2 separate regions of the Homo sapiens genome follow, and region 1 is linked to region 2. The links come from fine-mapping of genetic effects on gene expression. A gene starts in region 2. The other region holds a variant in brackets. All regions are shown on one strand. Distances are from middle to middle. Region 1 overlaps KLHDC7B-DT (KLHDC7B divergent transcript). Region 2 holds the start of CHKB-DT (CHKB divergent transcript).

Region 1 (2,745 bases), 42 kb after region 2:
ATTATTTTAACGTGTGACATGAAACAATTTCAGGAAATTGTATTAGGTATTGCGCTCGTGTCTTCTTAGGCGTCCTCATCCCTTTTCACCTCGGAGCTCAGCGTCTTCCTCAGCAGCACTTCCATGTCATCTGCCCCGTGAAATCAGCCTAACGCCGTTTCTCAATGACGTGGATCGCCCTAGGCCACCGCAACCTTCCGGAAGCTCTCTCAGCTCAGTTCCCATTCTCCCACCATCTCTTGGTTCTCCTTCTACCTCACCGGTTGCTAGTCCTCCGCTTCGCAGCTGAAAATGTGCCCGGGGCCTACTGTGGGCCTAGCCAGGCCTGCTTACGCAGTGCAGTTTCCCATGAATGATGCCCAGTCATTATCACATAACCTGTGGCAAGCCAGCAAGATGGCCCTGGTGACAGCAAAAGAAACTGCACTAGGACCTGAATGTAGATCTCAGTCATGTTCCTTACTAACAGCACGTTTTGCAACCATGCGTTAAAGAAACATCTGACTCACAACAAAATTTTAAAGGGTTTATTTGAGTGAAAAGCAATTTATGAATTGGGGAACACCTGACTGAAAGAGCGTTAGTATTCCAGAGACAAAACATCAAGTGCAAGTTTTTATTGGGAAAATGTAGAAGCACAATAAAGAAATTATTTGATTGGTTACAGTTATAGAGTTGCTTTCTTTGGCTTATCCTGTTGGAAAGTCAGTAGTTATATAATCATGATAGTTGGTTACTTATGATTGGGTAGATTAAAATTTATCTCTGTCTAATGGAAGCATTTATCAGAAACAACTCAGCCAGGCATGGTGGCTCACGCCTATAATCCCAGCACTTTGGGTGGGAGGCTGAGGTGGGCAGATCACCTGAGGTCAGGAGTTCAAGACCAGCCTGGTCAACATAGTGAAACCCCATCTTTACAAAAATACAAAAATTAGCTGGGCATGATGGCAAGTGCCTGTAATCCCAGCTACTCGGGAGGGTGAGGTGGGAGAATTGCTTGAACCCGGTAGGCAGAAGTTGCAGTGAGCCAAGATTGCGCCATTGCACTCCAGCCTGGGCAACAGAGAAGACTCTGTCTCAAAAAAGAAAAAAAAGAAATGACTCATGCCTGTAATCCCAGCACTTTGGGTGTGAGGCCGAGGCAGGGCAGATGACTAGTCTTTGAGACCAGCCTGGGCAACATAGCAAGACCTTGTCTCTACTGAAAAACAAACAAACAAAATAATGGCTCAAGTTAAGTTTCACTTATGTTTTCAATTTAAGCAAGGCTGAAGTCACTTACGAGACCTAACTTGTTTTGTCTGCTTAGGGATTCTTCAGGCCCGGTCTCCATTTTAGTTTACTTAAACAGCCCGGGTGCAGTGGCTCACACCTGTAATCCCAGCACTTTGGGAGGCCAAGGCAGGTGGATCACCTGAGATCAGGAGTTGGAGACCAGCCTGGCCAACATGGTGAAACCCCGTCTCCACTAAAAATACAAAAAAATTAGCTGGGCATGGTGGTACTCACCTGTAATCCCAGCTACTCGGGAAGCTGAGGCAGGAGAATTGCTGAACCCAGGAGGCAGAGGTTGCAGTGAGCTGAGATCGCACTACTGCACTCCAGCCTGGGTGACAGAGCGAGACTCCGTCACAAAAA[A/C]AAAAAAAAATTTACTTCAACAAATCCCCACTGGGCAAGCTGAGAGGATGACCAGATGGTAGAGCTTTGCTCTCTGTTACCACTGAGTGACGTAGTCACTGGAGTGCAGAGTCGTGTACAGGTGATCACCATCATAGACCTGGGTGGTGGGGTGTTGAATTCTGTAAGTTGTTTAATCCTGATGGCAATCATTTGATGTGAGAGTGGCTGCTGGAAAGTGTTGAAACCCTTGAGAGGATACAATGAAGGAACTGGGTAAACACAATGACTGTAAGAAAAACCACCAAGGACTCAGCAACTCCCTGCAGCTGAGATCCCCAGGAGCCAAGATTTAACCCATTAAATCAACCAACGGCGTCGTCTATCTCATGAGAGACTTACATTTGTTTCTTAAGAGTCTTTAAATTTTGGAAAACAATTTCTAACGTATTGATAAGGAAATTTTCTTATCAAGAACACAAGCTCTTATTTGTTAAGCTCCTAAGGTATCAAGAGCTTCTAGTTTGGAACACTGTTGAGGCTAAGTTGTTCATTTCAGATTGCATTGCATGATGGGGAATTCAAAGTATTGTTCTATGGAAACAAAATAATTTAACAAAGGTTAATCTTTGGAGTAAATTATGACCTTAGCCTTGTTCGTTTTTTTTTTTTTTGACTACCAGTGACTATGATCTTAGTTTTTGAGCCCAGAGATTGCAGCCTCTTCAGATGATGGAATGAAGATGTCAGTTAAAAAAAGACCGGGCGCGGTGGCTCACGTCTGTAATCCCAGCACTTTGGGAGGCGGAGGTCAGGCAGATCACCTGAGGTCGGGAGTTCGAGACCGGCCTGGCGAACATGGAGAAACCCCATCTCTACTAAAAAAAACATATATATATATACAAAATTTTCTTGCTGACAAATTTTGTAACAGAGATAATATGAGTTTATTTGATTAACAAAGCTAGGTAGAATATCCATTTTTACTAAATCACCAATATTCTTATTTATTAAAGATTAATCAAGCCACATGGACTTGAAAAGTATTTGGGTTACTCTTTTTCTGAGAAAATACTTCATATAAACACTTGTTTTTCTTATCTTTTCCTTTTTTTTTTTTTTTTG
Region 2 (3,010 bases):
ATTTCCATAAGCCTGCACCCTAATGAGAGGGCCATGATGCTTCAGGGCTCCTGGAAACAGTGTCAGCTCAGATCCTGTATCAGCCCTTCAAAGACCTAGACAGTCCCTTTTCCGAAGTAAACTAGTTTTTTTGGTGTGTTTGTTGTTGCTGTTCAGACAGTCTTGCTGTGTTGCTCAGGCTGGAGTGCAGTGGCGTGAACACAGGTCACTGCAGCCTTGACCTCCTGGGCTTAAGTGATTCTCTCACCTCAGCATCCAGAGTAGCTGGAACCACAGGCACCTGCCACCACGCCCAGCTAATCTTTTAATTTTTGTAAAGACAGGTTCTTGCTATGTTGCCCAGGCTGGTCTCAAACTCCTGGGCTCAAACGATCCTCCTACTTCGGCTTCCCAAAGTGCAGGGATTAAAAGCGTGACCCACTGCCCCCAGCCAGAATCAGTTTTCTTTTTTTTTTTTTTTTTTTTGAGACTGAGTCTGACTCTGTCGCTCAGGCTGGAGTGCAGTGGCTCGCGGCAACAAGGCCTGGGTTCAAGGGATTGTCACGCCTCAGCCTCCCGTGTAGCTGGGATTACAGGCACAAGCCACCAAACCCGGCTAATTTTTGTATTTTTAGTAGCGACGGGGTTTCGCTATGTTGGCCAGGGTGGTCTCAAACTCCTGACCTCAAGTGATCTGCCCGCCTCGGCCTCCCAAAATGCTGGGAGTACAGGCGTGAGCCACCACGCCCGGACCAGTTACTTTTTAAAGTGGCTCTAGGTCCCTTTAGGGAAGGATTGGAGGAATATTTCTTGGTATATGCTCAGATGCTGGTATTGTAAGATCCTTCCTGAGAGGAACCAAGCCTCCTTGTCAATTAATGGGCTCTAGGTCTCAAAACTGACTCAGATTTAAACAGAATGATCATGATTTTCCACTGCAGCAAAAGTGACATTAGCCTTGTGATCACCAATTTTTGATTTCTTTCTGGTTATCAAACAATACTCTAGTCAGATGCCCCAAAGAACACCATGGTTCGACAGACATTGCCACAGATCTCTGTGGGTCCAGCGTTCCTGGTCGCCGCTCTAGCCTGGGGCAGAAGCAGAAATGCAGGAGGCACGCGTTTAAATCAGGACGCCCTCAATGGGAGGTGCGCAGGCCGAGGAGGGGGCTGCGGCAAGCTGCGAGTCTTCACTTTCTTCGGCTCTTGGGTTTGACTCTGTAATTGGTTCTAGGCCTGGAGGAGACGAGGAGGATAGGGGGAGAGGGGAATGAATGAAGACGCGCATCTCAAGCGGGGCAGCAAAAGACTCCTCATTCAGAGGTGCGGCTCTACCGGCCAGGGAGTCCCCGTGTAGACTGGGCATTTATGCAACTGGAGTCATCGGAACTGTCCCAAGGGTCACATTCCTTCAGCAAATGTTTACTGCGTACCCACCGGGTGCCCGCATCCCGCACTCTGCCCGCGCTGTGCGGCCCTGCCTAGCGCGCGCGCCTCCTCCAGGCCTCACCCACGCTCAGGACGGACGCGCGCTGGACGGCTCTTCCTTGTCGGAGCGCCCCAGGGGTCGGGGAAGAGGGCCCGGCAAGGGAGCCCTCGCGCCGGAGCTGCAGCTGCAGCCGCCGCCCCGCCGCCCCGCCGGCTCCCACGGGGCAGAGACGCAGCTCCTCTCCGGTCTTCCCGTACGCTACCGCGCCCGGGCAGTTCCTCGCCCGCGCACGCGCCGCTCCGCCAACTGATTGGCCTCCGGCGCCTCGGATTGGCCCAGGCCGTCCAACAGCAGCCCCGCCCAGAGAGAGACCATTGGTCCTTGCCCATAGGGGCGGGGCCCGGCAGAGATCTGCGGAATTCGGCCTTCGGAAAGAGCCCCCGGGCCGGGGCACGGAGAGAGCCGAGCGCCGCAGCCGTGAGCCGAATAGAGCCGGAGAGACCCGAGTATGACCGGAGAAGCCCAGGCCGGCCGGAAGAGGAGCCGAGCGCGGCCGGAAGGAACCGAGCCCGTCCGAAGGGAGCGGAGCGCAGCCTGGCCTGGGGCCCGGTCGAGCCCGCGCCATGGCGGCCGAGGCGACAGCTGTGGCCGGAAGCGGGGCTGTTGGCGGCTGCCTGGCCAAAGACGGCTTGCAGCAGTCTAAGTGCCCGGACACTACCCCAAAACGGCGGCGCGCCTCGTCGCTGTCGCGTGACGCCGAGCGCCGAGCCTACCAATGGTGCCGGGAGTACTTGGGCGGGGCCTGGCGCCGAGTGCAGCCCGAGGAGCTGAGGGTTTACCCCGTGAGGTGGGAGGTCAGGGGTCAGCCTCTCCGGTGCGCGGATCGGGGTCAGGGGTCAGCCGCGGGGCCCTCAGGATGCTCCATGTTTTCGCCCCCCTCTTGCGCCCGCGCCTGGGGCGGGGCGGGGCCGGCCTGGCCGGGAGGGGGCCGGGGCCGCGGCAGGTAGGGCCGGCCGCGGGCTGAGCGCGCCTGGTGTGGGTCTGCAGCGGAGGCCTCAGCAACCTGCTCTTCCGCTGCTCGCTCCCGGACCACCTGCCCAGCGTTGGCGAGGAGCCCCGGGAGGTGCTTCTGCGGCTGTACGGAGCCATCTTGCAGGTGAGGGGGGTGTGAGCGCCGCAGCACCAGTGGCTTTAGGGCCTGTCGCTTACGCGATGCGGGTAGTATTGTTCCCGTTGCGCAGTTGAGGACACCGAGGTTCACGGTCTGAGTAACACCTCATTACACCGAAGCCTGGGCCTGTATTCCCAGAGCTTTGGGAGGCTGAGGCGAGAGGATCACTTGAGCACAGGAGTTCGAGACCAGCCTGGACAACATAGTGAGACCCCCATCTCTAAATAAAAATAGACCAACGCTAAAGCCTGTGCTCCAGAGCCTCCAGGCAATTGGATCAGAAGTCGCAGCTCTGGTGGGAGGAAGGCGAGCCCTCATGTGTGTCCCTGTGCCACTTTGCCTTGGCCCCTTTGCTGTCCATCCTTTTTCAGGGCGTGGACTCCCTGGTGCTAGAAAGCGTGATGTTCGCCATACTTGCGGAGCGGTCGC

Evidence for each region. PIP is the estimated chance that this variant, and not a neighbour inherited with it, causes the effect.
Region 1: its variant is fine-mapped to the expression of CHKB-DT in whole blood (INTERVAL, PIP 0.95).

What each region holds. Positions count from the first base shown.
Region 1 is chr22:50,540,224-50,542,968 of GRCh38, reverse strand. It overlaps KLHDC7B-DT (KLHDC7B divergent transcript), which reads left to right. Exons shown (of 4, transcript NR_199716.1): 4 at 70-666. It overlaps LOC102724608 (a long non-coding RNA gene), which reads right to left. Exons shown (of 2, transcript XR_430484.4): 1 at 1,513-2,745; 2 at 1-402. Among named protein-coding and RNA genes, the nearest start is that of KLHDC7B, 4.3 kb to the left of the region's middle. RefSeq lists enhancers at 137-306, 995-1,289, 1,578-1,687, 1,748-1,827. The variant A/C (reference allele first, on the strand shown) is at 1,642.
Region 2 is chr22:50,581,805-50,584,814 of GRCh38, reverse strand. CHKB-DT (CHKB divergent transcript) reads right to left here and starts at 1,789. Exons shown (of 4, transcript NR_110536.1): 1 at 1,492-1,789. CHKB (choline kinase beta) reads left to right here and starts at 1,966. Exons shown (of 11, transcript NM_005198.5): 1 at 1,966-2,257; 2 at 2,458-2,566; 3 at 2,953-3,010. The coding sequence starts at 2,034. It overlaps CHKB-CPT1B (CHKB-CPT1B readthrough (NMD candidate)), which reads left to right and starts at 1,816. Exons shown (of 30, transcript NR_027928.2): 1 at 1,816-2,257; 2 at 2,458-2,566; 3 at 2,953-3,010. RefSeq lists silencers at 1,420-1,819, 1,850-1,939, 2,270-2,469.